3 separate regions of the Homo sapiens genome follow, and all the other regions are linked to region 2. The links come from fine-mapping of genetic effects on gene expression. A gene starts in region 2. Each other region holds a variant in brackets. All regions are shown on one strand. Distances are between the middles of the regions. Region 1 overlaps SCN11A (sodium voltage-gated channel alpha subunit 11). Region 2 holds the start of CX3CR1 (C-X3-C motif chemokine receptor 1). Region 3 overlaps LOC102724104 (a long non-coding RNA gene).

What was found.
Region 1: its variant is fine-mapped to the expression of CX3CR1 in whole blood (INTERVAL, PIP above 0.99).
Region 3: its variant is fine-mapped to the expression of CX3CR1 in whole blood (TOPMed, PIP above 0.99).

Annotation. Positions count from the first base shown.
Region 1 is chr3:39,039,150-39,047,334 of GRCh38, reverse strand. All of the region lies in intron 1 of SCN11A (sodium voltage-gated channel alpha subunit 11), which reads left to right. Among named protein-coding and RNA genes, the nearest start is that of SCN11A, 8.7 kb to the left of the region's middle. The variant A/G (reference allele first, on the strand shown) is at 3,089.
Region 2 is chr3:39,276,724-39,284,908 of GRCh38, reverse strand. It overlaps CX3CR1 (C-X3-C motif chemokine receptor 1), which reads left to right and starts at 4,873. Exons shown (of 2, transcript NM_001337.4): 1 at 4,873-4,955.
Region 3 is chr3:39,247,333-39,255,517 of GRCh38, reverse strand. The region is part of intron 2 of LOC102724104 (a long non-coding RNA gene); the gene reads right to left. Among named protein-coding and RNA genes, the nearest start is that of CX3CR1, 29 kb to the left of the region's middle. The variant T/C (reference allele first, on the strand shown) is at 3,165.

The sequences.
Region 1 (8,185 bases), 240 kb after region 2:
TTTCCTTTTCATATAGGGGGTCAGTTTTCCCAGCACCATTTATTGAACAGGCTGTTCTTTTCCCAATATGTTATAGGGCCTTTGTTAAAAATCAGTTAATTGCCAGGCATGGTGGTACATGCCTGTAGTCCCAGCTACTTGGAAGGCTGATATATGAGGATTGCTTAAGCCCAGGAGTTTGAGGCCTGCAGTATACTACAATTGTGAATAGTCACTGCACTCCAGCCTGGGAAACATAGCAAGACCCAGTCTTAAAAAAAAAAAAGGGGGTGGGGGTGGGGGTGGGGGGATGGGGGTGGGGGTGGGGGGTGGGGGGCTGTGTGCAATGGCTCACACCTATAATCCCAGCACTCTGGGAGGCTGAGGTGTGTGGATCGCTTGAGCCCAGGAATTCAAGACCAAACAGGGCAACGTGGCAAAACCAGTCTTTATCAAAAAATACAAAAATTAACCGGGCATGGTGGTGCATGCCTGTAGTCCTAGCTACTCAAGAGGCTAAAGTGGGAGGATTGCTTGAGCCTAGGAGGTTGAGGCTGCAGTGAGCAGAGATCACATCATTGCACTTCAGTCTGGGTGACAGAGCAAGACCCTGTTTCAAAAAAACCATTAGTTGGCTATAAATACATGGATTTATTTCTGGGTTCTCTATTCTGTTCCATTGGTTGATGTGTCTTTTTTAATGCCAGTACTATGCTGTTTTGTTTAGTGTAGCTTTGTATGGTATATTTTGAGGTTAGTGTGATGCCTCCAATTTTGTTCTTTTTGCTCAGGATTGCTTTGGCTATTTGGGGTCGTTTGTAGTTCCATATGAATTTTAGGATTATTTTTTCTATTTCTATGAAGAATGTCATTGGTATTTTGATAGGGATTCCATTTAATCTGTAGATCACTTTGGGTAGTTTGGTCATTTTAACAATATTAATTCAGTATATGAACATGGATGTCTTTCCATTTTTGTGTATGTCCTCTTCAATTTATTTCATCAGAGTTTTATAATTTCCTTCATTCCCTCCCTCCCTCCCTCCCTCCCTTCCTCCCTCCCTTCCTTCCTTCCTTGCTTCTGTCCTTTCTTTTTGAGACAGAGTCTCACTCTGTTGCCCAGGCTGGAGTGCAGTGGCCTGATCTCGGCTCACTGCAACCTCCACCTCCCAGATTCAAGTGATTCTCATGCCCCAGCTTCCTGAGTAGCTGAGATTACAGGCCCGTGCCACCACGCCCAGCTAATTTTTGTATTTTTAGTACAGACAGGGTTTTGCCCTGTTGGCCAGGCTGATCTTGAACTCTTGGCCTCAAGTGTTCCTCCTGCTTAGGCCCCCCAAAGTGTTGGGATTACAGGAGTGAGACACTGTGCCTGGCCGCTACTGTTTTGTATATTGATTTTATATCCTACAACTTTATGAATTTCTTTATCAGTTCTGAGAATTTTTTGATGAAGTCTTTAAGTTTTCTATATATAAGATCATATCATCTGCAAACAGTGACAATTTGACACTTCCTTTCCAGCTTAGATGCCCTTTATTCTTTAATCTTGCCTAAATGCTCTAGCTAGCATTCTCCATACTATGTTGAATAAGAGTGGTGAAAGTGGGTATCTTTGTCTTGTTCCAGTTTTTAGAGGAAGAGTTTTCAATTTTCTCCTGTTTAAGATGATACTAGCTGTGGGTTTGTCATATATGGCCTTTATTGTGTTGAGGTATGTTCTTTTTATACTTCCTTTGTTGAGAGTTTTTATCATGAAAGGATGTTGAATTTTATCGAATGCCTTTTCTGCATTGATTAAGATGATCGTTTGGTTTTTGTCCTTGATTCTGCTGATGTGATGTATCTTTTGTTTATTGATTTGCATATGTTGAATCATCCTTGCATCCCTGAAATAAATCTACTTGATCATCATGTGTAATCCTTTTGATGTGTTGTTGGATCTGGTTTGCTAATATTTTGTTGAGAATTTTTATATCTATGTTCATCAGGGATATTGACCTGTAGCTTTCTTTTTTTGTTGTGTTTTTGCCTGGTTTTGGCATTAGGGTAGTGTTGGGGTTGTAGAATGAGTTTGGAAGAATTCCCTCCCCTTCAATTTTTTGGAATAATTTGAGAGGAATTGGTGTTAGTTATTTAAATGCCTGGTGCAACTCAGCATTGAAGCCATGGTCCTAGGCTTTTCTTTGTTGGGAGACTTTTTATTTCTCCCACAATCTCATTACTTGTTATTGATTTGTTCAGGTTTTCTATTTCTTCCCGATCCAATTTTGGTAGGTTGCGTGTGTCCAGGAATTCATTTCCTCTAGGCTTTTCATCTTGTTGGCATATAGTTGTTCATAATAGTCTCTAATGATCTTTTGTATTCCTGTGGTAACAGTTGTTTTTTTTCATTTCTGATTTTATTTATTTGGGTTGTTGCTCTCTTTTTTTAAAATTACTCTAGCTAGTGGTTTGTGGATATTATCTTTTCAAAAAACTTTTTGTTTTGTTGATTTGTATTTTTTGTCTCGATTTCATTATTTCTGCTCTAATCTTTATTATTTCTTTCCTTATGCTAATTTTGAGTTTCGTTGGTTCTTGTTTTTGTAGTTCCTTGACGTGCATCATTAGTTTGTTTATTTGTAATCTTTCTGCTTTTTTTGATGTAGGCATTTATTGTTATAAACATTCCTCTTAGTAATGCTTTTGATGTGTCCCATTGGTTTTGGTATGTTGTGTTTCTGTTTTCATTTGTTTCAATTAATTTTTAAATGTCCTTCTTAATTTCTTCATTGACATATTTATCATTCAGGAGCATGTTATTTAATTTATATGTATTTGCACAGTTTCGAAGTTTCTGTTATTATTGATTTCTAGTTTTATTTCATTGTAGTCAGAAAAGATACTTGATATGGTTTTGATTTTAAAAAATGTGTTGAGACTTGTTTTGAGGGCTAACATATGGTCTATCTTGGAGGATGTTCTATAAGCTGATGAAAAGAATGTGTATTCTGCAGCTGTTAGAAAAAATGTTCTGTAAATGTCTGTTAGGTCCATTTGGTCTATATTGCCGTTTAAATCTGATGTTTCTTGGTTGATTTTCTGTCTACATTATCTGGTCAAAGGT[A/G]TTGAAATCCCCAACTTAATTGTATTGGAGTCTGTCTTCCCTTTAGATCTAATGATATTTGCTTTATATATCTGGGTGTATATATATTTAAAATTGTTACACCCTTTTACTGAATTGATCCCTTTATTATTATATAATGACATTCTTTTTCTCTTTTTACAGTCTTTGACTTAAAGTAAAAAACTCTTGCTTGTTTTTGGTTTCTGTTTGCGTTTACATTTGGCATTTAAAAAATTATTTTTATCTTTAACTTTCGTGGGTACATAGTAGGTGTATTCATTTATGGGATATATGAGATCTTTTGGGACAGGCAGGCAATGCATGGTAATCACATCATGGAAAATTGGGTATCCATCTCCTCAAGCATTTATCCTTCTTTTTTTGCATTTATCCTTTTTATTACAAGCAATGTAATTATACTTTTTAAATTATTTTTAAATGTACAATTAAAGTATTATTGACTGTAGTCCCCCTGTTGTGCTATGAAATACTGTCTTATTTATTCTTTCTAATTTTTTTTGTACTCATCAGCCATCTCCACCTCCCCACCACCCACCCCCAACTACCCTTCCCAGTTTCTGGTAACCATTCTTCTATTCTCTGTATCCATGAGTTCAGTTGCTTTGATTTTTAGATCCCACAAATAAGTGGGAACATGTGATGTTTGCTTTCTGTGCCTGGCTTATTTCGCTTAATATAATGACCTCCAGTTCCACCTATGTTGTTGCAAATGACAGGATTCTGGGTTTTTTTTTTTTTTTTTGGCTGTATAGTACTTCATTGTGTATAAGTATCACATTTTCTTTATCCATTCATCTGTTGATGGACACTTAGGTTGCTTCCAAATCTTGGCTATTGTGAACAGCGCTGCAACAAACATGGGAGTGCAAATGTCTCTTTGATATACTGATTTCATTTCTTTTGGGTGTATACCCAGCAATGGGATTGCTGGATCGTATGGTAGCCCTATTTTTAGTTTTTTGAGACTGCTAAATGATTCTTCATAATGGTTGTACAAATGTGCCTTCTTACCAACAGTATACGAGGGTTCTCCTTTCTCCACATCCTCGCCAACATTTGTTATTGTCTGACTTTTGGATAAAAGCCATTTTAACTGGGGTGAGATAATATCTCATTGTAGTTTTGATTTGCATTTCTCTGATAATTAATGATGTTGAGCACTTTTTCACATGCCTGTTTGCCATTTGTACGTCTTGTTTTGAGAAATGTCTAGTCAGATCTTTTGCTCATTTCTTTTTTCTTTTTCTTTTTTTTTTTTTTTTTTTTTTGAGATGGAGTTTCGCTCTTGTTGCCCAGGCTAGAGTGCAATGGCATGATCTCGGCTCACTGCGAACTCTGCCTTCTGGGTTCAAGTGATTCTCCTGCCTCAGCCTCCCGAGTAGTTGGGATTACAGGTATGCGCCACCAAGCCTGAATAATTTTGTATTTTTAGTAGAGACAGGGTTTCTCCATGTTGGCCAGGCTGGTGTCGAACTCCTGACTTCAGGTGATCCTCCTGTCTCGGCCTCCCAAAGTGCTGGGATTACAGGCGTGAGCCACTGCACCTGGACCTTTTGCTCATTTCTTGATCAGATTATTAGATTTTTTTTCCCTATAGAAGTGTTTAAGCTCCTTATATGTTCTGGTTATTAACTTCTTATTAGGTGGATAGTTTGCTAATATTTTCTCCCATTCTGTGTGTTGTCTCTTCACCTTGATGATTTTTTCCTTTGCTGTGCGGAATCTTGATGTGATCCCATTTGTTCATTTTTGCTTTGGTTGCTTGTGCTTGTGAGGTATTACTCAAGAAATTTTTGCCCAGATTAATGTCCTGGAGTGTTTTCCCAATGTTTTTCTTGTAGAAATTTCATTGGGATTTCTTTTTTATATTTTTTCACTTTCAGTCTATGTGTGTCTTTACAAGTGAAGTGAGTTTCTTATAGGCAGAATAGGCTCTTGGTTTGTTTGGGTTTTTTTGGAGATGGAGTCTTGCTCTGTCTCTCAGGCTGGAGTGCAGTGGCACAATCTTGGCTCACTGCAGCCTCTACCTGCTGGGTTCAAGCGATATTCCTGCCTTGGCCTCCTGAGTACCTGGGACTACAGGCGCCTACCACCACGCCCAGATAATTTTTATATTTTTGGTGGGGACAGGGTTTCACCATGTTGGCCAGGCTTGTCTCAAACTCCTGACTTTAAGTGATCCTCCTGCCTCAGCCTCCCAAAGTGCTGGGATTACAGGCATGAGCCACTGTGCCGGCCTGGGTCTTGTTTTTTTAATCCATTCAGCCAGTCTATATTGTTTAATTGGGAAATTTAATCCATTTACATTCAAGGTTATTATTGAAATATGATATTTTTTCTGTCATATTGTTAATTGTTTTCTAGTTGTTTTGAAATTCTTTGTTCTTTTCTTTCTCTAATTTATCTTTGCAGTGATAAAGTTTATTTTTCTTTCTCATTTGTGTATCTTTTCAATCAGTTAGTTTTGTACTTTTGTGTTTTCATGATGGTGGTTATCATCCTTTTGCTTCCAGATGTAGGACTCCCTTAAGTATTTCTTGTAAGGATGGTCTAGGGTGATGAATTTCCTCAGTTTTAGTTTGGGGAAAATTTTATTTCTTCCTCATTTCTGAAGGGCAGTTTTATTGGGTTTGATATTCTTGCTTGGCAGTTTTTTTCTTACAGCACTTTGAATATATCATCCCATTCTCTCCCGGCCTGTAAGGTTTCTGCTGAGAAAAATGCTGTTAGTCTAATGGGGATTTTCATATATGTGACTTGACATTTTTTTCTTGCTGTTTTAAAAATTCTCTCTTTGTCTTTGACTTTTGACAATTTGATTATAATGTGCTTCAGAGAGGACTTTTTTGGGTTGACTATATTTGAAGATTTTTTAGCTTCCTGGATGTCAATGTCCATATGTCTCCAAAGTCTTAGAAGGGTTTCAGTGATTATTTCATCAAATAGGTTTTCTATTCCTTTTTCATCTCATTTCCTTCTTAAACATTCAGAATGTGAATATTTGTTTGCTTAATGATGTCCTGTAAGTACTGTAGGCTTTCTTTATTCTTTTTGAATTCTTTTTTCTTTTTTTAGTCTGACTGGGTTATTTCAAAAGACCTGTCTCCAAGTTCAGAAATTATTTTCCTTTTGTTTTTCTTTTTTGAGACAGAGTCTTGCTCTTTCGCCCAGGCCGGAGTGCAGTGGCGCTATCTCAGCTCACTGCAAGCTTCTCCTCCCGGGTTCACACCATTCTCCTGCCTCAGCCTCCCGAGTAGCTGGGACTACAGGCACCCGCCACCATGCCTGGCTAATTTTTTTTTTGTATTTTTAGTAGAGATGGGGTTTCACCGTGTTAGTCAGGATGGTCTCGATCTCCTGACCTCATGATCCGCCCACCTCGGCCTCCCAAAGTGCTGGGATTACAGGCGTGAGCCACCATGCCCGGCCTTCAGAAATTATTTTCTTCTTGATCTAGTCTGTTATTGAAGCTCTCTATTGTATTTTTTATTTCATTAGCAGAATCTTTTAGCTTCAAGATTTCTGTTTGGTTCTTTTAAAAAAATAATATATGTTTCTTTGTTGAATTTCTCATTCAGAGCATTAATGTTTTCCTGATTTCATTTGTATGTCTGTATTTATCCTGTATCTTGCTGAGGTTCCTTAGGCTCATTAGTTTCAATTCCTTTTTAGGCATCTGATAGCTTTCATTTTGGGGAATGTGTTACTGGAGAATTATTGTGTTCCTTTGGCAGTGTCGTGTTTCCTTGTTTTCTTATGTTTCTTGTGTTCCTATGTTGATTTCTGTGCATCTGGTAAAATAGTCACCTCTTCCAATTTCATGGAGTAGCTTTCATTGGGAAAGACTTTTTTCCTGTAGTTGTGACCTGTAGTGTTGATTGCATAAGGTGCTTTGGCTTTGGTTCTGAGTGGGTGCAGTAGTATAATCTCCACACTCGATCTTAGACAAAAGGCTGAGAAGCAATAACAGTTATGTAGTCTCTGTGTGATTTTTAACAGCATGAGCAGTATTTGAGTGCCACAGTGGCATAGACTGTTGACATTTATGGAGGCTATAGTGTAGTTTTGCTGGTGGTAAGTGTCCATTGGTGGCCAGTTCTTGGATTATGGGAGGGTGCTTGCCTGGAACAACAGCTTTACTGATTATAGGATGCCATTGCCAGCTGTGGTGGGCACCAGGTGGGCACCAGCCCTGAGGAACACAGCACGTGATGTCTCTACCTCTAGAGGGGGTGGGGTTAGCAGAGGTGGTGTGTGCTAGGTAGACCAGTCCTCAGCCCTTGGCGGACATGTACACATGCTATATCTCCATCACTGGATGGGGCAGGGTTGCTGGCAGCAGTGGGTGCTAAGTGGGCAGGTCCTTGGTCCCTGGGAACTGTTTCAGGTACATGGTAGCTCTGCCACTGGAGGGGGCAGGGTCTCCAGTGGTGACAGCCTCTAGGTGGGCTGATCTTTGGTCTCTAGGGGTGCCCATGCATAAGGCAGCCTCATCACTGGAGGGGATAGGGTTGCTGGCAGCGGTGGGTACCAGGTGGCTGGCCAGGCACATTGGCTTCCTCACTCCTGAGGGTGACCTCCTTACTGTGCTGGACTACCTGCTTCCTGGAGCACAGAGTGCTATGTGGGCTTTAGTGCTAGAGTCATGGCTCTACTGCTAGGTCTGGCTGGGATACTGGCACTCAGTCTTCTGTATGGGCATGGTGGAATGACCGCAGGGCCCCAGGGATATTGGAGACATAGGGCCATTGGATCCTGGGGCAGGATGTACTTCAGCAGTGGCTTCTTTCCCAAAATGGTACCATGCCGTGACAGCTTAGGTCCCAGGGAGTCTGCAGGAGAGGGTTCATTGTGTGTTTGTGGATGTATTTTAAAACCATCACACTGCCATAGGCAAAATAAATAGATTCAGAAACAAAGGGATATTATACCTAATGACCCACTTAAAACAATTTTTTAGACTTCCATTCTCTGAAATTCTGGGCTTCGGTGGTTTTAGAGGTTTGTTTCTAAAGAAAGGAGTTCCTCCAGCAAGGGCTAAACAATGATTTCTTTGATTTGGAGCTGAGACTGCCA
Region 2 (8,185 bases):
GGTCCTTTACAATTCTATGCATTTTCCTGTAGCGAGATCCCTTCTCCGTCTTCCACCACCCACTGCTTTGGCTCCCCTCTTGCTGTTCCCTGCCTGCATCTGGGCAGGAAGTTCCAATCCTGACTTGACCCTTTTTCAGCTGTGTGGCCTAGGACTCATTGCTCTTTTCTCCCCATTTCATCATCTGAAAATGGAAAAAATAATACCTGACTAGAAAGTGAAAGTAAAAAAGAGATATAATGGACAATGTGCCTCGCACAGGGCCTGGCATGGAGAAGTCCTTGATGTACGTCTTTTCCTTCCCTTTTATGCAGCCGTTTCCCTCACACCCACCCATTGATTGATTTTTCTGAAGAGACTACTTTTGTCATGTCACCCTCTAATCCCCAGACTTTAAACTGGGAGGTAGCAGAGTGGTCTGATTAAGACCTTAGACAAGGGTTTCTTGTCTGGGCGCAGTGGCTCACGCCTGTAATCCCAGCATTTTGGGAGGCCAAGGTGGGCAGATCACTTGAGGTCAGGAGTTCGTGACCAGCCTGGCCAACGTGGTGAAACCCCATCTCCACTAAAAATACAAAAATTAGCCAGATGTGGTAGCAGGCTCCTGTAATCCCAGCTACTCGGGAAGCTGAGGTGGAAGAATAGCTTGAACCCAGGAGGCGGACCTCAGCACTTCTGCCTGGGTGATGGGAGTAAATCCTGTCTAAAAACAAACAAACAAAAAAAAAAAACTTAGACAATGGTTTCTCAGCTTTTTTTAATCACTCCCCAACAAGTCCTTTTAGATATTATATTCTTTTGTGTGTGGCGGGGTACATAGCGTGTGTATATGTTTGTAGGTTACATGAAATGCTTTGATACAGGCATGTAACGTGTGATAATCACATCAGAGGAAATGGGGTATGCATCACCTCAAGCATTTATCCTTTGTGTTACACACAATCCAATCATACTCTTTTAGTTATTTGTAAAGGTAAATTAAATTTTTTTTACTATAGTGCCCCTGTTGTGCTTGTAAATACTAGGTCTTATTTATTCTAAGTATTTTTTGTGCCTATTAACCACATTATATATATATATATATATATATATATATATATATATATATATATAATTTTTTTTTTTTTTTGAGATGGAGTCTCGCTCTTTCGCCCAGGCTGGAGTGCAGTGGCGCTATCTCGGCTCACTGCAACCTCCACCTTCCGGTTTCAAGCGATTCTCCTGCCTCAGCCTCCCAAGTAGTTGGGATTACAGGCACCCGCCACCACGCCTGGCTAATTTTTATATTTTTAGTAGAGACAGGGTTTCACCATTTTGGCCAGGCTGGTCTTGAACCCCTGATCTCGTGATCCACCCACGTTGGCCTCCCAAAGTGCTGGAATTACAGGCGTGAGCCACCATGCCTGGCCCACATTACATTCTTACTCACCTCCCCCTACCATGGAATTTTATTCCACAGATATGCTATTGGTTTAGCTACTATATGTATATCTGTGTTTTATACATAAAGCACAAGAACCTTCCAGAACCAATTTTCGCCACCTTGGAAGTAATACCACCTCTACTAAGAATGCACAGCATAGACCATAAAACCTCAATGCTAAGTTCAAATATTGGCCCTACCACACATGAGCTGTGTGGTCTTGTACAAGTTACATAACTTCTCCTCCTTGTCTCAAACTCCTCACATATAAGATGAGGATAATAATAGTACCTGCGGCCACACACAGTGGCTTAAACGTGTAATCCCAGCACTTTGGGAGGCTGCGGCAGAAGGATCACTCAAACTCAGGAGTTCAAGAGCAGCCTGGGTACATGGCGAAACTCTGTCTCTACAAAAAATACAAAAATTAGCTGGGTGTGGTGATGTGTGCCTGTAGTTCCAGCTACTTGGGAGGCTGAGGTGAGAGGATCGTTCGAGCCCAGGAGATCAAGGATGCAGTGAGCTATGATCATGTGGCTGCACTCCAGCCTGGATAACAGAGCCAGACCCTGTCTGAAAGAAACAAAAACAAAAACATTAGCACCTGCATCATAGGGTCACTGGGGGCACTACATGAGTTCATGTACATCGAGGACTTAGGACATTGCCTCAGGCAGACCTAGTGCTGCACAACTGCTTATGTAATTATTCCCAAATTTCTCCAGGGCCCACAGAAGAACATGGAAGTATCTTGGTTTGGCAATTAAGGTGAATCACATTCTCACTCTCCTTTTCTGCATCTCTACCCCACATTCCCACAAAGCTTTATTCACACCAAGTCTCCAGTCCTTGCCTGCATTGTGTGATGGGTGCCTGCAGTGATGGGTGGGGACACCCATCACTGTCCAGGGTGTCCCCACCATCCTCACAGCCTCTCTGTCTGGCCTCCTGCCTTTGAGCCAGCCCACCACACTCTCATTTCTCTGCCCAGCAGAAACCAAACTGTCCTCTGCATTTACTGTCTCAACTGGAAGAGAAATGCAGAATGACAAAGAACTTGTGAACAAGGGTCAGCTCCAACAGAGAGTGAAGCCAAAGGGGCTGGGCAGAAAGAGAGATGAAGACGGGGATCTAAGGAATAAGGCTGTACCAGAGTGAGAGTACGGGGGAGGGGTTGAACAAGAGTTCAGGGAGGAGAGAATTCCCAGCGCTGAGCCAGAGACTCCTTTACAGAGGCCCAAGGAGGCGTGGAGGGAGGGGGAAGGCTGCCAAGGCTCTTTCTGTCTCCATGAGTGTGTCAAGAATGCAAAGCACTAATGCTCTTCACTTGGTCCATCTTGCAGGGTTGAGTTTGCAGTGAGCAACCTTGAAGGATGAGCTGACATCTCGCTCAGGGCCAAATAACCGACTTGCTTACTGCTTGCTATAAAATGGCACGTTACCCAAGGTCAGAGTTCCCTTCCTATAACCTCCCCATCCCTCACACATTCACAGGTATCTATCCAAGCCATGGCATCACTCTGTGGGGCTTGGGGGCAAGGCAACTGACACTGGACGCTGGTTCTCATGCTTGCCAAGCATGAAGCCCTGTGCTGCTAGCAGCTGTGGAACATAGCCGTTAGCTTTAAAAGAGGGTAAAATCACGTCCTGGACAGGACAGCCAGGTGAGTTGGGAAGGGAAGAGAGCCTGCCACGGGCACAGGCATGTTGGGGGAAGTGGAAGTGGTGAGAGCACAGTAGGAAGTGAGAAGGGGCGGGCCGTGCTTACCAGGCCGTGGACTTAAACCAGGATGAGAGAACCCCTGGAGGCGTTTAAGTTGGCAGACTTGGATTTCAGGAAGAGCTCTCTGGCTTCTGGGTGGAGAATGGCCAGTGGGGTAAGTGGTGAGAGGAAAGACAGAGAACGGAGAAGGTTAGATGGGCTTGGGAAATTATCCAGGCCCTGGATGGAGGTAGAGATGTGTGCTCATGAACACGGAGGGGATTACTGATGTGGGGTGGATGAGACTGTCGTCAAGAGTGTGGGACAGGAAGAGAGGGAGAGTCTTGGCCAGATCCAAGAAAGGAGCCCTCAGAAGAGGAGGGGAGTCAGAGGCAAGGAAGGGGCTGAGGCAGCCAGCCCAGCTGAGTGGACCCCAGGAGAGGTATCAAGGGGTGGTGTGGGGTGGGGAGGGGCCAGTGTCAGAAAGTGGATGGGGAGCGGCCTGACTCTGCTTTTGTCCTGTGGCCTTCTGGCCAAAGGCAGGGAAAGGTGGCCAAACACTGAGACCAAGAACAAAGAAAGAAAACTGCTGGTGGACTTCTTCCACCATGAGCAGGCCACCAAGCCCGCAGCACTGCACTGCAGCCCCCAGCTCTGTCCTGGGGTTGGGGGAGGTGAGGAGGGGCAAGGTGGGGAGCACACAGAGCACCCGCTGTCCTCGGAACACCACAGCGACTAGAGGTAAGGGAGCACCGGATGTGGCTGGGATGTGGGCAGCAAGGGGCCAGAGGGGCCTTGAAGGGGTCACAGACCATTTAATGAAGGTGTATTGAAGGCCACCATGGGCCAGGCCCTAGTTAGGGATGGATCAGAATTATATAGCATATGCCAGGGGTCAGGCAGGTAATGAAGTGATCGGAAGGTGATGAGGCAGTGGCAGTTGAGATTCACGTTGCAGTCGCCCCAAGCTGGCCAGGCCAGGGAGCAGAAGCATGGCTGGATGCCGGAGCCCACCAGGCTCCCCACTGCAGGGCAAGAGTGGCAGGGGGAGAGACTGTGAAAGGAGCATAGGCCAGGTCCTGGGTGAAAGCTGTGTCCTCAGCCTTGACTGATGGGTATAGGGAGCCACTAAATGCCTTGGGGCAGAGAGGTGAGGAAAAAAATATTTACCGAGCATCTACAAGGTGCAAGGTACTCACTAGATGCCTTCAGTACCAAAGCTTCTCAAACTTAGTATGCATATCACTCTTCTAAGAATTTCATTAAAATGCAGATTCTAATTCAGCAGATATAGGGCAGGGCTTGAGGTGCTGTCTTTAATAAGCTCCCAGTGCCTGGGACTGCACTTTGAGGAGAAGAGCTGTGTGTGCCCCAGTGTGGTCCAGTGAGTACTCTGGGCTCCCTCTCGTGGGCAGGGAAGCTGAGGGCCCCATGAGCTCTCCCAGCTTCCTGAAGGCTCCCCATTAATGAGAGCTGACTGTGCTGTGCTTTGCTGACTGCAGGGCCTGCTCCCTGCCCCCCACCTCCAGGTTGGGGTAAGTGGCACCTCTCTCCCTCCAGCTCCGCAGTCTTCCCTGAGGTTTAGATCTTCCAGGTTTATAAAGTCAGGCCCTCCTGTTGGCAGCTGGCCTCCACCCTGGAGTATCTGAGCTTGCCTGTGGCAGCATCTAAAGATAGTCTCCCTTACAGGAAACAAGATACTATTGGCTAACTCTGCAAATAAAATGCTCTTAGAGGGAAGGAAAGGGAAATACTCGTCTCTGGTAAAGTCTGAGCAGGACAGGGTGGCTGACTGGCAGATCCAGAGGTTCCCTTGGCAGTCCACGCCAGGTAGGTGCACAGGACTAGTTGGGTACCTGTGGGTGGGGTGGAGCAGTGGACAGCTAATAGGTTAATAATGCCTGTTTGCTTACGTGCAGACAATGGAAACCATTTTCCTGGGGATGTTGTAGCCTAAATATGTCCAAGGGGATGGAAGAGTGGGAGGCAAGGGGTGATCAGATCATTTATAATACACTCAACCTGGTGGAATAGTATTAGAAGCATTAGTAATTACATTTTAGAGACATGGAGAAAAGCTCATGATTTTAAACTAACTGAAAAAAGCATGAAAAATTGCATCTGGATGCTGTTGAGGAATTATTGCTAATTTTTTGAGATGAGAAATTGTATTAAAGTCTTTTTCAAAAAAGAGTCCTTAACTTTTAGAGATGCACACAAGTGTTTATGGGTGAAATTAAATAATTCAGTAGAGACATTAAGTGGGAAATAGAGGAAATATTGACCATGGGTTGCTAATAGTTGAAGCCAGGTGTTGGGTATAAGGAGGTTCTCGCTGCTTTTATTTGAAAAGTTGCTTTTTATTTGAAAATTTAATAATAAAGAGTTTTTAAATTTGTATCTGTATTTTAATATAAATATAAATGCACTTAATATAAATATAAAATATGTATAACATTTAGATAGAGAAAAGCTAAAAGATTACTGTGGTTGATTCTAGGAAACTGCATTGCAGATAGTTTCATGGGTTTTTTTTTCCTTTTTCTTCCACTTTTTGTACCATCTATGGGTTTTTGTTTGTTTTTTGTTTTTTGGGTTTTCTTTCTTGTTTGTGTTTTGTTTTTTGAGACGGAGTTTTGCTCTTGTTGCCTAAGCTGGAGTGCAATGGCACAGTCTCGGCTCACTGCAACCTCTGCCTCCTGGGTTCAAGTGATTCTCCTGCCTCAGCCTCCCAAGTAGCTGGGATTATAGGCATGTACCACCGCCCGGCTAATTTTGTATTTTTAGTAGAGGCGGGGTTTCTCCATTAATAAATTCCTGGCACAAATTTAGTGTTCAATTTTGATATATGTTGTTATAACCATTGTGAGGATACTCAGGCTCAGGTTTGTGTGGGTGGAAAACATGGTCTTCAGAAAGAAATTATGAGTGCAAGACAGGAGGAAATCCATCAGAGGCCCCAGCTGAGGACTGACCACGGCTTGTTATTTCTCTTGCCTTGCCTCTGGCAATCACAGCCTCACAGAGCCTGCAATCCTTGCTTTGTGAGTTTATAGCTCAGTCCAGAGAATGGCTAAGAAAGTTTAGGATTCTTTCAACACCCACTCCACAAAAAAAAAAAAAAAAAAGAAAAGAAAAAAAAATTAATTTTTGAAATACTTGAGGTAGAAAACTTGAGGCAGAAAAAAATTGAGCCAAAAAAAAAGGAAAATTGAACCACGTGAAAGCAGGCAAGAAAGCTTGCATTGCTCAGGGCATCCCAGGCCCAGAGGGCGCTTTGGAGGGAGCTGGGTTTCCTGAGAGGAGGCAGGGTGGGTGACGGACCTGTGCTGGAGAGCCTTGAGGACCACTGTGGGTTGGGAATGGGGGCAGTGGATTGGGGTTCAAAACCCCTGGGAATGAGAAATGGGCTCAGGAAGGCTAGGGTGGATTCTTTCATCTTCCTCTTTGCTTGGCTTTATTTTCACAAAGGAAGGCAGGGCAGGAAATAGTCTCAGCCCAACTTCAGTGTGGTTCTTCTTAGTGCTCAGGCTTACCTGGCACTTGCCACACCTCTGGGATGGGAGCACCTACTATCCATCAGCCACGTGCCAGTCTCCACAAAGTCTGCTCCTGAACCCTGCTCCTCAGCTGGCCCCACTTCACAGATGGGGACATAGGCAGCTTGGCTTTGGAATGAAGGAATGAAGTCAGGAATGAAGTCCTGGCTCTGCACTTGGTGACTGTGCACTGGGCTTGCTAAGTCTGTTTCCTGCTTTTAAAATGGAGATTGTCCATCAGCCTTTGAAGCCATGTAATGGGTATGTGTCAACTTTCTGCAAGGATTAAAGGCATGGTATAGGAAGTCCCAAACACACTGCCTGACCCATCTTTGATGCTCAAGAAACGATATATGTTGTTGTCATGAGGAAACTGAGCCTCAGAAAGTTTGGATACCTGAAAAACACTGACTACTATTGAATGAGGTTGTGAAGAATCCAGAGCTGTAGGGGCAGGAAAGCAAAGAACGTATTAGAGCTGACCCAGTCAGGACGATCGTCTATCCCCTTCCTCACCCCACCCCATCCCAGGAGGAAGCCTGCCCGGCCCTAGGCAGCTATGGCACAGTGGCAATGTCAGGTATGGTTCTCCCTAGCCAGAGACCCTAGCCTCAAAAAACCTCCTTCTTGGGATCCAGGCATCCAACTGCTCCTCCCCAGCCCCAGCCTCTGACCCAGTATCCTGAGTCCAGAGACGTTTGGAACCAGCACCTGTAATGGAGGAGCTGAACAAGGAGGGGAACTTCTGCTGCTCCACAGCAGGTCACGGTCATAGGAGGGAGTGGAACCAGAATGGCAGAATCCAGATCTTGGCTGCCTTTCCCAAGGACTTGTTCTGATTCCTAGCAGCACAGCCCAGGCATTCCGAGAAGTTGGGCTCTCTGGCATCACTCACTCTGCCCAGAAGAGCCAGGGGAAAGTTGGGGCTTCTAGCTGAACCTTGATCCCACCTGCCCTCTTGAGGGGCTCAGAATCTGCTGGCTGCTTCACAGGTGGGATTCTCACGGCACGCTGGCCACAGCTGATGCTTCGACCCCCTCATCTTGTTTGGCCAAAGTGCAGCTTTTTAGCTTGTGAGTAAGGAAGAAAAGCTGTATCATATGTCTTTAAACATCTTCCTAGACCACCTTTGTTTTCCCCTTAAAGTGTGCTTAAGGAGAAAATGGAAAGTCTCTTTTCAGTGTGTTGTATTTTGTTTATTGCAAAATACAACACACTGAAAGAACAATGTCTGGGTTAGCAAAGTATTAGATTTAATTTCCCACATTACTACCATCCAGGCTGAGAAAGAGAACCCCAGAAGCCTCTCTCATGTCCCTTCCTGACCACAGCCTCTTCCTCTCCCACAAAGAACCACAAGTCTGACTTCTATGGTGATCACTTCCTTGCTTTTCCCTATAGTTTGACTGAATCTAAATATCATCCCTAAACAATATAGCTTAGCTTTGCCTATTTTTGATCTTCATATTTGGATTCATACTTTTTGGTTTGGCTCAAGACTAAACTTTTAAAATGCATCCA
Region 3 (8,185 bases), 29 kb after region 2:
TCTAGTGTCTAGAAACCTTCCCATGGACTCCTCACTTCTCTTCCCTCTTCAGGAGAAGAATGAGATGAAGATTTGTAGCCTGAGGCCTCATGCACACAGGTATCCCCAGGAATGCCTAAGCAGCATACGCAGATTTAAACCTATCTTGGGGCTGAAGCAGGACCTAAAGTTATATGTACTTTTTCGTCAACACAGTTTTGCACAGAAGCAGAATATGAAGGATGCAGAGTTGAGGAGGCAAGAGGTGTCATTCTGCTCTGTGATGAACCTGAGTGGGCCCTTCAAAATACATGGCTTCTGGCTTTAGTGGCATGTGCTGGGTAAATTCAGCTGCTGCTATTCAGATGGCACAAAATATTACTAAAGTACTAAAGGCTTGTTGGGGTGAAATTAATGCAGCAAGAAAAATAGTGATTAAGTTTTCACTGGTAAAATTTTGACATTTGGCTGAGTAGGAGATAACTTGAAGTTGTAGGAGTAGCTATAGTTAGCAGTGCACTGGTATTTGTGGACTATATTTAAACATGTCTAAAAAAGGATGCACTTCTTTGGTATTTATGACTCATCTTTATAGGATGAATCATTTGCATGAATTAAATTTATCTCTTAAATCTAAAACCACAATTTGCTATTTTTTTCCTAATAAAAGAATAGTTTCTTAGACCATTTGTGCTGCTATAACAGAATACCATAGAGTGGGATATTTAAAAAGAACAAAAATTTGGCAGGGCGCTGTGGCTCATGCCTATAATCCCAACACTTTGGGAGGCTGAGGCAGGCGGATCACAAGGTCAGGAGATCGAGACCATCCTGGCTAACACAGTGAAACCCCGTCTCTACTAAAAATACAAAAAATTAGCCGGGCGTGGTGGTGGGCACCTGTAGTCCCAGCTACTTGGGAGGTTGAGGCAGGAGAATGGCATGAACCCGGGAGGCGAAGCTTGCAGTGAGCCGAGATTGTGCCACTGCACTCCAGCCTGGGCGACAGAGCGAGACTCTGTCTCAAAATAATAATAATACTAATAATAATAAAATAAAAAAATAAATAAAAAGAACAAAAATTTATTTCTCACAGTTCTGGAGGCTGAGAATTCCAAGACAAGGCATGAGCATTTGGTCTGATGAGGGCCTTCTTACCATGTCCTCACATGGCAGATGACAGAAAGACAAGCCACCAAGCTAGCCAAACGCTGCATGAAGCCTCATAAGAGACTTAATCCCATTTACAAAGGAGGAGCCCTCATGGCATAATTACCTCTTAAAGACCCCCGCCTCTTAATACCATCACATTGACAACACCTGGATTTTGGAGTAGACGCATTCAAACCATAGCAAATGGTAAAGAAAACACGCCTCAAGTGCCTGGGTGCCAGGAGACAGTGTCATGGTGCTGCAACCACTTTGGGCTGCCCATGCAGGACTTCCTAGCACAAGAGTCACAAAGCCTCCCACTTGTTCATACCACCTTCTATTGGGTTTTCTGCTCCTTGCAGCTCCCTGCAATAAGCTGGTAACTACCCTTCCCTGAATCCCCTGCTGCCACGCAGGTGTTCACCAGACATCCACCTTCCCACCTATACCACAGCCATCGAGCCACATAGGTGGTCTGGCCCCTCTTCCTGTCTGGCTTGGCCCTCAGGTCCAACTACTGTGCCCACTTTCCCATGCCACGCTGCAGGCCGGAGTCACTCTGCTGCACCCATGCCACACCACATCGTGGGCCTCTCCAAAACGCTGGTTATGGCCATCTGCCTAGACCTCTTCTCTCTCTGGGGTCTGCTCCTTCCCAGGACTCTGCCCAGGGAGCAGAGCACAGGCCTGTTGCCGCTGGATCCTACAGATGATCATGGGTGCTGCAGCAACTGCAGGGCTTTGCCCAAGAGGCAGAGAAGGGCCTCGCTCTCTGTGACACCTGAGTCTATACATTCGTAGCTGCCCTGCCCACCCCCTGCCTCCTCCTGCCCAGGAAATCTGTTTATCGTCTAGAAGGAGAGGAAAGGGGAAAGCCTCCTCTTTAGCATTGCCTAAGAAATTTAGATCTTTAAAAGGTAGAACCAGAAAAAAATAAGTTAAAATTCTTTGTGACTTGTCCTGCTTCACAGGGCATGGTAAAGACTAGGTGTCAGATAGATGTGGATGAATTTGGAAAGAAGCGATAAAAGAGAGGGCCAGTGTGCCACAGGGCATGGCAGAGCCTCTGGAGGTCAAAGAGGAAGGTTTCAGGTGGAAGAATTAGATAATGCAGGTGCTGTGGTTGGAGCCTTAGAGACCAGGCAAGACTGGAAGAATCCCACAGATGCGCTATGCTAACTGGGGGCGGGGGGAGAAAGAAGTAATCACAGAGGCACAGGAAGCAGCAGGCAAAAGTAGCCCCCAAGTCCTCTTCATCCTCCACTTCACACAGTCAACCCTCAGAGTCACCCCCTCCCTGTTGTCCTTCAACCAGACCCTCTGTCAATAGCCTCTCCCTGCCCTCACTCTGCACGCTACTATCGCCACTAGCTCCACTGCCAGCACCAAGGCCGGTCTCCCCAGCACTGCCTGGTGACCGCCTGCACACCTGAGTCTCCTGCCCCAGCTTCTCACCATGCATCCTCCCAGCCACTCCTCCCCAGGCCTTCCAGGTCCAAGGCCACAGCATGAGAGGAAATGGGATCACCTTTGCTGGAGCTCCTTTCTGTCTTGTCACCTCCTTAAAAGACTGTCAGCACTGGCTGGAGGCCTTCACCCCTCCATCGCCATTGTGGCCCATCAGTCCTCCTGTGCTGGGGGCTGGCCAGCAGTCCATGGGGCTGGCTGGAAGAGCCCGTAGGTCTGTGTGTGCGCACACACACACACATACATGCACACGCACATGCACACACCTTCCTAGGACCAAGAGAAGGGCCAAGTTTCATGGAGGGTATGGCAGTTGGGCTTAACGATGTGGAAGTATTAAGAATAAGAAGGAAGCCCCATGAGAACTCAGTAAGCTATTGGGAGAAGCCACAAGTCACTGGGTGGGTGAGACCAAGCTAAGAAGGTTGGTGACTGCTTGAAAGAGCAGTGATCCTGGGGACTTGGAAAGGTCCTGCTGACATGTGGGCAAAGCCCCCAAGTCTCAGAGAGAACCTTCCCCAAACAACCCTCACACAGCCAGACAAGTCAAATGCCCTCCTGGCCCA[T/C]GGCCACCCTCAGGACCATTCATGAGGGGAGCCTGACATCTGCAGAGATGCCCCCTCTCTCCAGTCTCCTTATCTCTCCTCGTCAAAGAGCATCACTGTCCCCACCTCCATTCATGACTTTGTGTCCTAACTCCTATGATTTCCCTCTCTTCCAGGTTTTTCCTCCTCTGCTTATAGCAGAGGAGCAGAAGAGCAGGGCTGTTATACATGGAGGCAGACCCAGGCTTCAATCTCGGTCCAGCACTTCCCAGCTGTGCAGAGTGTTTCATCTGAGCCCTCCTAAATCCAGGCAGCTGTCCCCTGGTTAGCAGAATGTAGTCTTCTTGGGGGTAACTGGCATGTAGCTAAGGAAGCCACTTCTGTGCAAAGGTATCTGGGACCAGTGATGTGAAAAGTGTGGAGAAAAAGAAGCAGGAGGTATCTGGCCCCAAACCTGCCCCAGAACCTCTGAGAACTCCCTGGAACTGCGTGAAAGCCAGCAAGGCTATGGTGGTTTTGGAGTCTCAGGAAGTCTGCAGTCACTGGAGTGTACCATAGACAGTCCTGCTGGGAGCCAGGAAGAGATGTGATAGCAGGCAGGAGACGCCCGATGCCTGGCAGATGTGTAGGATGCCATTGGAGGGCATGGACTTGGCCCTGAACACCTGTGAGCTGCCCTCTCACTCCAGAAAGGTATAGAGAGATGCTGTCCTTACTCAGGGGAGACTGGAGACTCAAGATGACGGAGGCTTGGTGTTCATTGGGCCCCGTTAGTATCCTGGGGCATTTGAGCCACAATAGCCAAGGGACAGTGCATTTATTTCTGAACTTGTCTCAGCTTCTCCATGTGAAAAATGGTAATAAGAGTAGCATGAGACTTAAGCAGGTGGTTTCAACTCCTAGCTCCACCATATATGTACTGACTACAAAACTTGAGGCAATTCATTTAATGTCTCTGTGCCCTGATTTTCCCATCTGTAAAATAAACATAGCAATGGTGCCCAGTGTTGGGGTTTCTGCTGTTTTGGCTCCTCCAAGAAGCAGGTGCTAAGATGGGAAGGAATTGGACGTATGAGAGATGTGTTAGGGAGAACACCTGTGAGGGAAAAAGGGAGGCTGTGAGAGGCTGAGAAGCCTCCAGACCACAACACAGGTCTGTTCCCTGTGTGGAAGAGATGGAAGGAAAGTTTTGGCAAGGCCACTGGGATGTCATGGAGCTCAGGTGATGTCTCCCAGGATTGGAACTGCCATGCTGAGTCCCTCGATGGGAAGCAACTTCAGGGCACAACGGTCAAGTTCTTCTGACAGTCGGAGCTCTGAGGAGCTCTGAGGGCACCTTCTCACATCTGCCATTGGGCTGTCACAGAATTTAAGGATTTGCCTAATTCTGATAGAAGTGTTGAGAATAGAGCTAGTCTTATTTATTTTGAGCCCCCATCATATTCCTCCCAACATCCAGCCTGCTGGAACAAACTGTCTGCTCCCCATGCTCCCACTCTCCCCTGCTCCTCCCTCCTTCAATAAGCCTCCTGTTTTTATTATTTTCCCCCTCGTTTTCTTCCTATTTTCTTTCTTTTTAGGTCTCCTCTCAGATCTGCCCTCCAGCCACAGTCCCCTTCCAGGAAGGGGAAAGGCCACAGAGGGGTAGGCGGAGGGGAGAAATGGCATTGGGCAGGGGGGGTGGGTGATGGGTGGGGTGGGGCACCGTGTGCAGCCCTAAATGTGAGTGAGGGAAGGCCCGAGGCTGATGCCTCCATATGCCTCTGCTTCCCCACACTGAACCTTCAGGAAGTGTGGGCCAAGCAGGAGTCTCCCTCAGAACCACAGCCATCCCCCCTACTTAGAGGACCTGTGCCTGAGCTTCCACCCTGGCTTACTTCCCACAGGAGGCTAGGAAGCCCTTGCTAATCAGCATCCAGCCTTCACCTGTCAGCTCCTAAAGAGAGAAGAGAGCAGAGAAGAGAGCTGAGAAGAGAGCAGCTCTAGGAGCTTCCAACATTTGTTCCTCCTGCCCGGCACAACAAAGATCTATTTTAATTCCCTCTGCTGGCTAGTCACTAGCATAGTGGAATGACATTAATCTCCCTTGTCAGGGGGAAGCTGAGGAAGCCAATACTTCTCCTTTGAGGTTTGAGTTGCAAAACTCTTCCTCAATCTCCAGCATTATAAATCCTGTTTTTACTTTCACAGCTATGTGCAAAATCCAAATAGCACCTTTCTAAAAATGAATAGAAGAAGCCATGTCTTATTCTGAAATTAAGTTTCCGAGGCTCTAAGAGGAGAGGACTAAGAGGGGCTATTCCAGCAGGGACACTGCTACCCTTGATGGGACACGAGAGGAGCTGTGCACCCTGAAGGATGACCTGACCCCCTCCCTTCTATTTCTAATTCAAGGAACATGGCCCAGGATGAGACAGTCTAGGAAATTATGCACACCCAAAAGGGTGGCATCGTCTGGGGAAATGTCAGCATCCCAGCACAAACTGACTCAAAGAAAGGAACTACCATCTGTGTGTGTCTGCTGAATACAGGCATTGTGCTAAAGTAATCTTAGCAATGTTGTCTGCAGCCCTTTATGGCTTTTGGTGATAGGTACCCAGCCACAGGGCAGTCCTGAAAGTCTGAGAAATTAGTCACAGCATCATTCGGGTCACACCATTGTGGTGGCTGTTACCTGCAAGAGGCTAACAAAGAGGTTTTAGGGTATGACTTCAGGTTGACCAAGTCAAGTGCATGATCTTTCCTGAGTTCATTCCTGGAGAGTGTCTATGTGACGGGTTCCTGCCTCAGCCCTCCTGGCAGAGAGCCTGTTTGGCTGAGCTGTCATGGTATCCACTCTGGGTGCTCTCTTCCTGCTCTCAGTGGAGGAGGGTGGCAGTTCATCACTGAGGTGTGAGTGAGCCTCAGATGTTTACGAGGAGGAGTTTCAGGCGCATATAACTCAAAGAAAACGGCTGGTCTTTCGGAACTTGCTAGCAGACCTACCTGCCACCCAGAACTAAATTCAATGAAACTTTATTTCATCCCTTATAAAGCATCTCTCATTTTGTGGACTGGGATTGATTCCTTCAAAAGTTGCCCTTACAGATACCACATCTGCAATGGTCCAATCATAAGGGTAACCACTCTTGGTAAACTATGTACATGCTTTGCTTGAGGGCATTAAAGATCAATATGTCCATGGACTGGCCTCTTCTCAAAACCCAACCACCAGCCAGTTGCCTTTACCATAACTCTTATCCTTAAAAGCCACATCTGATGGCATGGCCATGATGGCTAAGTTGGGTGCCTGATGAATCCAGACAGAAATTTAATAGTAGGCCCAAGTTACAAGATTCCAGTTCTGGAAAGTCAGCCCACGTCCATCTGAAAGAGCCTATGGTGCAGTGGTGACAGGTGGGAGCTCCCAAGGACACTGCCTGGTTTAAATCCCAGTCATTCCACCCACCAGCTGTGAGACATTGGGCAAGCTCTTCACACTTTTTGGTCTCAGTTTCTTCCTCTGTAGAATGAGAGTGATAATAACGGCTAACTTCACAGTGTAAGAATTAAATGAATTAGTATTTGAGAACTTCTTAGACCTGGACCTGGCACATGGCACAAATTCCACGCACACTGTTTGTGGTAGTGGTGAGGGTGATCATTGTTACGTATGTCCTAGCAGTAGAAAGTGGCCCAGGCTGGGATTTGAACATAGTACCACATTACTACCCAGCCACACTCTTTCCATGAAGCTGTTTTTTGTTTTTTGTTTTTGTCTTTCTTTTCTTTCTTTTTTTTTTTTTTGAGAGGGAGTCTCACTCTGTGGCCCAGGCTGGAGTGCAGTGGCGCGATCTCGGCTCACTGCAAGCTCCGCCTCCAGGGTTCACGCCATTCTCCTGCCTCAGCCTCCCGAGTAGCTGGGACTACAGGTGCCCACCACCACGCCCGGCTAATTTTTTTGTATTTTTAGTAGAGACAGGGTTTCACCGTATTAGCCAGGATGGTCTGGGTCTCCTGACCTCGTGATCCGCCCGTCTTGGCCTCCAAAAGTGCTAGGATTACAGGCGTGAGCCACTGCGCCCGGCCCACGAAGCTGTTTTTAATTTGGAAATGTCCGTTCCTTGAGATTCAAAACTAAAAATTAGGAACTGAAAGGTAGAGAATTCATCTTCACTGGGTATTACTGAGTGTTTTTACATCATGGCAGCCTTCCCTTTCAGCCTGCTTGGTGTTGCCGACGCCTCACATAGGCTGAAAGCACCCAGCTCTCTCCCTCTCGAACAAGAACTATTGTTCTATCTATGGGAATAGAAAGATCGACTTTCACATTTGGAAAAAATTAAACAAACCACTTTAAAGAGGCTGAAAACTGACTGCTGGAATATTTAACTAGATTAAGAATTAAAATTAAGAAAGTTTCTTTTACCGTTTTCCCCAACTTTTTATTTTAAAAATGGTAAAGCTAAGAAGTTAAATGAGCACTACAACAAACACCATATAACCTTTATCTGGATTCTGCAACTTTACCATTCTGCCACCTGTGTTTGATCTCTCTGTGTGAGAGGAGAAAGAAAGAGTAAGAAAAAGAGACAGAAAGAGATTTTTCTTTGACTAAACTATCAGAGAGTAAGTGACAGATATATTACTCCTAATTACATTAGCATATGTGTCCTAAGGATAATGACTCCTGCCACATAACCACAATATTATTATCACACCCAAGAAATGTAACATTGATTCAGTAATATCACTTAATGTACAATCCAATGATACCCAAATTTTCCCCTATAGCTTTTTAAAAAATCTAGGATCCAATCAAGATTCAACATTGCATTGACAATTGATCGTCATGTCTCTTTAGTCATCTTTAAGGCAGAAGTGAGGCAAACTTTGTCTATGAAGAGTTAGGTAGGTCTGTGTCTTTTTTCTCTTTAAGACATTTATATTTTTGATAAATCCAGGCCACACTATCTTGTAGAATATCCCATATATGTATTAGGTTTGTCTGATTGTTTTCTCAGTATTAGATCAGGTTAAAATATTAGGCAAAAATGCAACAT